Linked DNA regions of Homo sapiens: region 1 is linked to region 2. The links come from fine-mapping of genetic effects on gene expression. Tissue or cell type: testis. Region 2 holds a variant in brackets; the other region holds the start of a gene. All regions are shown on one strand. Distances are from middle to middle.

Region 1 (2,620 bases), 24 kb after region 2:
CGACCTAAAAAGGGGCAGCAATAGAAACAAACGGGATGAGCAGATACAGGGTTGAAAACTGGCCAGAGGAAGGACCGCGGTCTCCGCCGTCTCTTTATTCGGAGCAAGGTTATAGGAAAAGGGAGAAAGGAGGCGCTCGCACTCTGTCTGGCTTTGAAAGAAAACGTCGCGGTGTGTGATGTTCCCCTTCCTGTGTCCAAGTGTTCTCATTGTTCAATTCCTACCTATGGGTGAGAACATGCGCTGTTTGGTTTTTTGTCCTTGCGATAGTTTGCATTGGGAGATATACCTAATGGGTATATTTCTTAATGGGTGCAGCACACCAATATGGCACACGTATACATATGTAACAAACCTGCACGTTGTGCACATGTACCCTAGAACTTAAAGTATAATAAAATAAATAAATAAAAAGAAAAAAGAAAACGTCGCAAGGGGATTCTTTGGAAAGGGCAGCAGACGCGCACCTGGACACGGTAGTCAGCTGGACCCGCAGCCTGCACCGGGACGCAGGGGCGGGGGCCGAGAGGGGCCCCGGGCTGTACAGCCCTTACCTGCGCTCGCCCTGGTCGGTGTAGACGTTGAGGAAGAGTCCCTCCCTGAGGTCTTCCTTCACCAGGCCCGAGAAGCTAAGCTGCAGCTCGTAGCTGCTACCAGGTTTCAGGGGCTCACTGAGCTCCAGCACCATGTATTCCGTGTCCAGCGCGAACCACACGTCGTCCACGGGCACGCGGCCCACTGTGGCGTTCCCAGTGCCCGGGGAAAGGGGTCCCCGCACCTCGGCGCGCTCGCAGTCCTGGAAGAGGCTATGCAGCAGCAGTCGAGAGGTGGCCACCGTGCAGCGCACCGTGATGTTCACGCGGCCAGTGAAGGGCAAAGACCCGGCCGGAAGCTCGTCGGGCCTCAGCTGCGGCCACAGCTCCAGATCGTAGTGCAGCGGCACGAGCCAGGGCGGCAGGCGTAGCTGGTCCCAGGGCCCCGGGGGTCGCCAGTTGCTCGGGGTGGTCGTCACCGCTAGCTCGCGTGCACTGCTGGGTTTCGGGGTTGGCGTCGGCTTCTGCCTGAGGGGAGGGGAAGACTCGGCTTCCAAGTCCCTGAGTCCAGGCAGCTCCGACGGTGGGACGCGCTCGCAGTGGCCGTACAAGGCGGCGAGTACGGCCAGCGCCAGCAGGAGGGCGGCTACCAGCCCAGCCAGCAGCAGGGCCACTGCGCGGCTCACATAGAAGCCTGAGCTGGAAGGGGGCCCCATGGCAGGGACCGGGTTCAGGCGCGAGGCTGGAGCTCAGAGACTGTGGCAGCTGTCAAAACCCCGGCCAGGGTGTTCAGTGCTGCGACCCCTGCCCCTCCTCTCTTGTATCGTGCCTCTTCCTCCTGGAAGAGCCTGGACGGACTGGAGCTCAGCAGACAGCGGTTGGGACCATGGCTTCCCCCTCCCAGCTAATCAGACACAGGTCCCAGCCTACCCACCCCCGCCCCCGGCCAGCGCCAGGGAAGAGGCGGACCTGGCTCACCCAGACGCGTACCCCTTTGGGTTCGAAGAGACAGACCCCACGGAAGATGCCTCCAGGGTTGGCGCGGGGAGGGGGTGGTCAAGCCAAACGAATCCGGACACCTTAAACGTGGATATTTGGATGAGGGGTGTGCCCCGATACGGTTTCAGGTGTTGTCGGAAAGGGGACAGGTACCAAGCACCTCTATCTCCAAGCCAGCGATGAGCTACCAGCAACACACCTGCTCCACCGCCAGCTGGGGCTTCGTGTGCTAGGGGGTGGTAAGGGCTTGAGGACCAGGATATTTGGGAATGCGTTCAGAAATGACCCTGCAGGGCGTCGGCCGCGCCGTCAGAACAAATTTCTGGAGCCAAATGTGTGGCGCTAACTTCGCTTCCTAAATAAGCCCAGGAGGCATGCGGCCCAGGCAGCGAAGGCGAAGATGGAAACAACGTCCGGAGGCCCGGAACTTTTCCAGAGCTCAGGAAGCCAGGCTGGAGGAAGAGGCGACAAAGTGCTAGGGAGCCTGGCGTCTGCGTCTCCCGGGTGAAATGGGGTTGTGGGGCAGAGCAGGGTTAGGACCGCGTTACCACAAGAAGGGGCCTGGCGGGATGGTTTTTCTTAGCTCTGCAACTGCCTGGGGCCGGGGTTTCCCTTCCTGAAGCCGGGGGAGAGGGGACACCTGCTTTCAGAACCGACTCGAATCAAGCAAAGAGAATAAAACAATTCGGCGGCCAGTGTTTCCACCCAGAAATTCCTGGGCTGGAACTGGTTTTCCCGGCGGTACCCTAGTCGCTGAGGCTTTCACATGTTTGACATGGCATCTGTTTGCTATTTAGCTGGTGCCCCTGAGCGAATTCTTGGCGTCTGCGCTGGATCTGGAGTCTGCATTCACGCACGCTGGTGAATTGGGAATGAGATTGCAAGCATCAGGAGGCACTGGGGACGGAAGGGAAGGTAGTTAGATCCCACTGCAGGCTGAAGATTTTAAACTATCCCGTCTTGAGACTCGCGCGCGTGTGTGTGTGTGTGTGTGTGTGTGTGTGTGTGTGTTACAGCGAAAATATAATAATTTTTCCATAGCAGCTATAAAACGGTGTTCGCTTTACTACTGCTTTGGCTGTATCTCA
Region 2 (2,762 bases):
CAAAAGAGAAAGTAGGGTCTAGAGGACGGGAGGCTGCCATTGAGTAGCCAGGAGAGACCTAAAAAGTCTGAGAGCTCTTCAGCAGCTGCTGAGCACATGGCTCTGTACAGAGAAAGAGCAGGTGAGCCTCTGTGTGTTTCAGAAGGTATAAGGCATAGGTCAGGAGGCTAACTCCAAACCAGCAGCTAAATGGTGATGGTGAATCCTTATGGGTTTGTCTGTGTATCTTGAGGCCTCAACCAAGGGCCCAAATAACAGGAAACCAAATGCACTGAAAGGAAAAGATTACCTCACCTGTTTTTGGAAGAGAGTAACTGATATTAAACAAATCCTCCAGAAAAGAGAAGATGGGACCTGTGATGTTCAAAGCAAAGTCTGCACTTCCATTTGCAATTGCATCTTTCCGGGCCCAGATGCGTATCTAAATCAAAACAGTTAAGCAGTGATTAGGAAAACCAGTAGTGATTTTGGAAAGAGGTAGTCTGCTTGCTCCAATTCCCTGCTGCTGAACCAAAGTCTTACCTTTCCAGAAGAAGCTGCATAATAAAATGCTTGCATGCTTACATGTCCTGAGAAAACCCCTGAAGGCTGTTCACTAAGTTATGAACAGTGATTCCCCCGAAAGTGTGTTATTTCAATCTTTGACAATAGCATGTACAATCTGGAATCATAAAACAACCCCTGGAATGGGTTGTACCAGCATCTACCCCTACAGTAAGTGTAGATTCTATAGGCATTTTGTGCACTTTGGGCCCTTGCTTCCCATTTCAGGATATATTACTAATGATCCAAAACAGAATTGCACTGTGAGTGGGGGTTATATAGTATGGTACATATTAAGCATATTTAAATCATGCACATTTAAAATTGTTTAGCAGTTAGAACATTAATAGTCCTACTTTACTTACAAAATTTGAAATAAGGTTAATTCTCCTAATTTAAAAAAGTTCATCAAATGTCTCATAATTTTAAAACTGTCAAAGCAAGTGAATTATAATTCTCTTGTTTTTCTATTGCCAAATGACACTTCCACTTTAGCAAGTAAAAGGAAATCTCTGCCATGTTTTGTCCGTTTTGTGTGACCACACTATTGTTTGTGTAATTGGAG[C/T]TTATTTGTGTGATTTTGTGAGTAATATCCTATTGTTTTAACATTAATTATTACTATAAATTGAAAGTATTGTAAACTCTAAAAAAAAAAAGTAAGTAATTTTTAATAGAATTGCCAGCATTAATGTTAAAGAACATGCATAAAACTTAAAGATCTTGGAATGAAAGTTACCAAGTGAGATAATTAAAATATTTGTCCTGTTGTGAATGCCGTTAATTTAAGAAAGAACGCTCTGCAAAACATTAGAGAAAATGCTAAGGAAATGAAAGAATCACAGTATTTACAGATTTGTGCCCTCCAAGAACATATTCGTCTTACTTTGCTTTTATTTCTGCTTAAAAGTATTTCTAGAATTATGTAAATTCTGAACTACTTACATGTTTCTTATGTTTATTCTCATGCCACACATTAACCACACTTTCCATTTCATGAAATCTTTATCTGTTACTTAATGAGAAATTTGTAAATGGGCTGGACTCTATTCCAAGTGTACATTTTTGTTCCTCTGCAGAGTATATAATGGACCCATTAACTTTGTAAAGCTGAGCTGTAGCCAAATGTTCACATTCCACTGATAGACTCATGCCAAACTTCAGTGTGCTGGCTAAGAACATGACTTTCTTAGGTATGCTCCATTTCCTTGTTGTTTCTATGGCAGCTGGCATCCTTTTCGGGGTGATCTTTCACAGATAAATCGATATCATCCCGCTACAAGAATGGTTGACTGTGCAGCAGCACTGACCACAGCAAGGCACTTGAGATAATGGATGCCAAGGAATCACCTTTGGTCTGTCATTACCTATGGGAGCCCATTCCTCCTTACCAAGCTCAAAGCACGTGCTTCCAAATCATGCCTGAGCAGATTTAAAAATATAAGCCATGCACGTTTAACTTGGCCAGTGTTATATTTGTAGATGACAAGGTTCTACTAGTAATTATTCAATAGGAAAATCAGACTGGAGCCAACAGCCTAGGAAGATAACAAGCTGCCATTTGCATCTAAAACGGTATTATTAATTCATTAAGTTAGGAGGAGCTTTGAGAATCGCTCAGCCAACACAATATTACTAATTCATCACTAGGTTAGGAGTTGTAAAGGAGGAGTAGCTTTGAGTAATTCTCCCCTGATGAGGGGCTTGGCTCACCCACAGCTTCCTTTTCTCCACATGTCAATGGTGCAAGCCTGGAAGACCTTGGGCCCCTTGGGCCCAGGAGAGTATGTTAGCGAGCTATAGGGCCTGATTTTTCTCAGCTTGATGAAGTCTACGTGTCTAGAAAGAACTGGGCCTAAGGCCCGCTATAATAGGGAGTGAACAAGCATATAAAGCACTGCCAGCACGACCTCCATATTTTCCTAAAGGATTATTATAAAGGGGGTAATTGGGTGAAAACCAGCTATTTCAGGACAGAGTGCTGACTTTACACAACTCAGAAAAAGTGTTGCATGCTCCAGAACTGAAGAACATGGCAGTTCAGCTTCTGGATAGGTATGGGGACAAGAGTGACTTTATTTTAAATGCTAATCCACTATGTAACTTCTGACTAACCTTGAGTCTGAGAGTGCCTCTAAATGTCTAGTTAATGTGTTAACTCATTATGTAGAAACACCTATTCATTGTAAGTTTTCTTCAAAACCACCCTTGTTGTTCTGGAA

Direction of the effects. Alleles are on the strand shown, and positions count from the first base shown. SD is a standard deviation of normalised expression in the study named.
As copies of C replace T in region 2, the expression in testis of the gene that starts at base 1,392 in region 1 goes down (moderate effect, 0.58 SD a copy in GTEx).

What was found. PIP is the estimated chance that this variant, and not a neighbour inherited with it, causes the effect.
Region 1: it holds the start of LVRN, and the variant in region 2 is fine-mapped to the expression of LVRN in testis (GTEx, PIP above 0.99).

Annotation. Positions count from the first base shown.
Region 1 is chr5:115,961,247-115,963,866 of GRCh38, reverse strand. LVRN (laeverin) reads right to left here and starts at 1,392. Exons shown (of 20, transcript NM_173800.5): 1 at 555-1,392. The coding sequence starts at 1,249. RefSeq lists an enhancer at 911-1,170.
Region 2 is chr5:115,985,472-115,988,233 of GRCh38, reverse strand. It overlaps LVRN (laeverin), which reads right to left. Exons shown (of 20, transcript NM_173800.5): 4 at 295-421. Among named protein-coding and RNA genes, the nearest start is that of LVRN, 24 kb to the right of the region's middle. The variant C/T (reference allele first, on the strand shown) is at 1,109.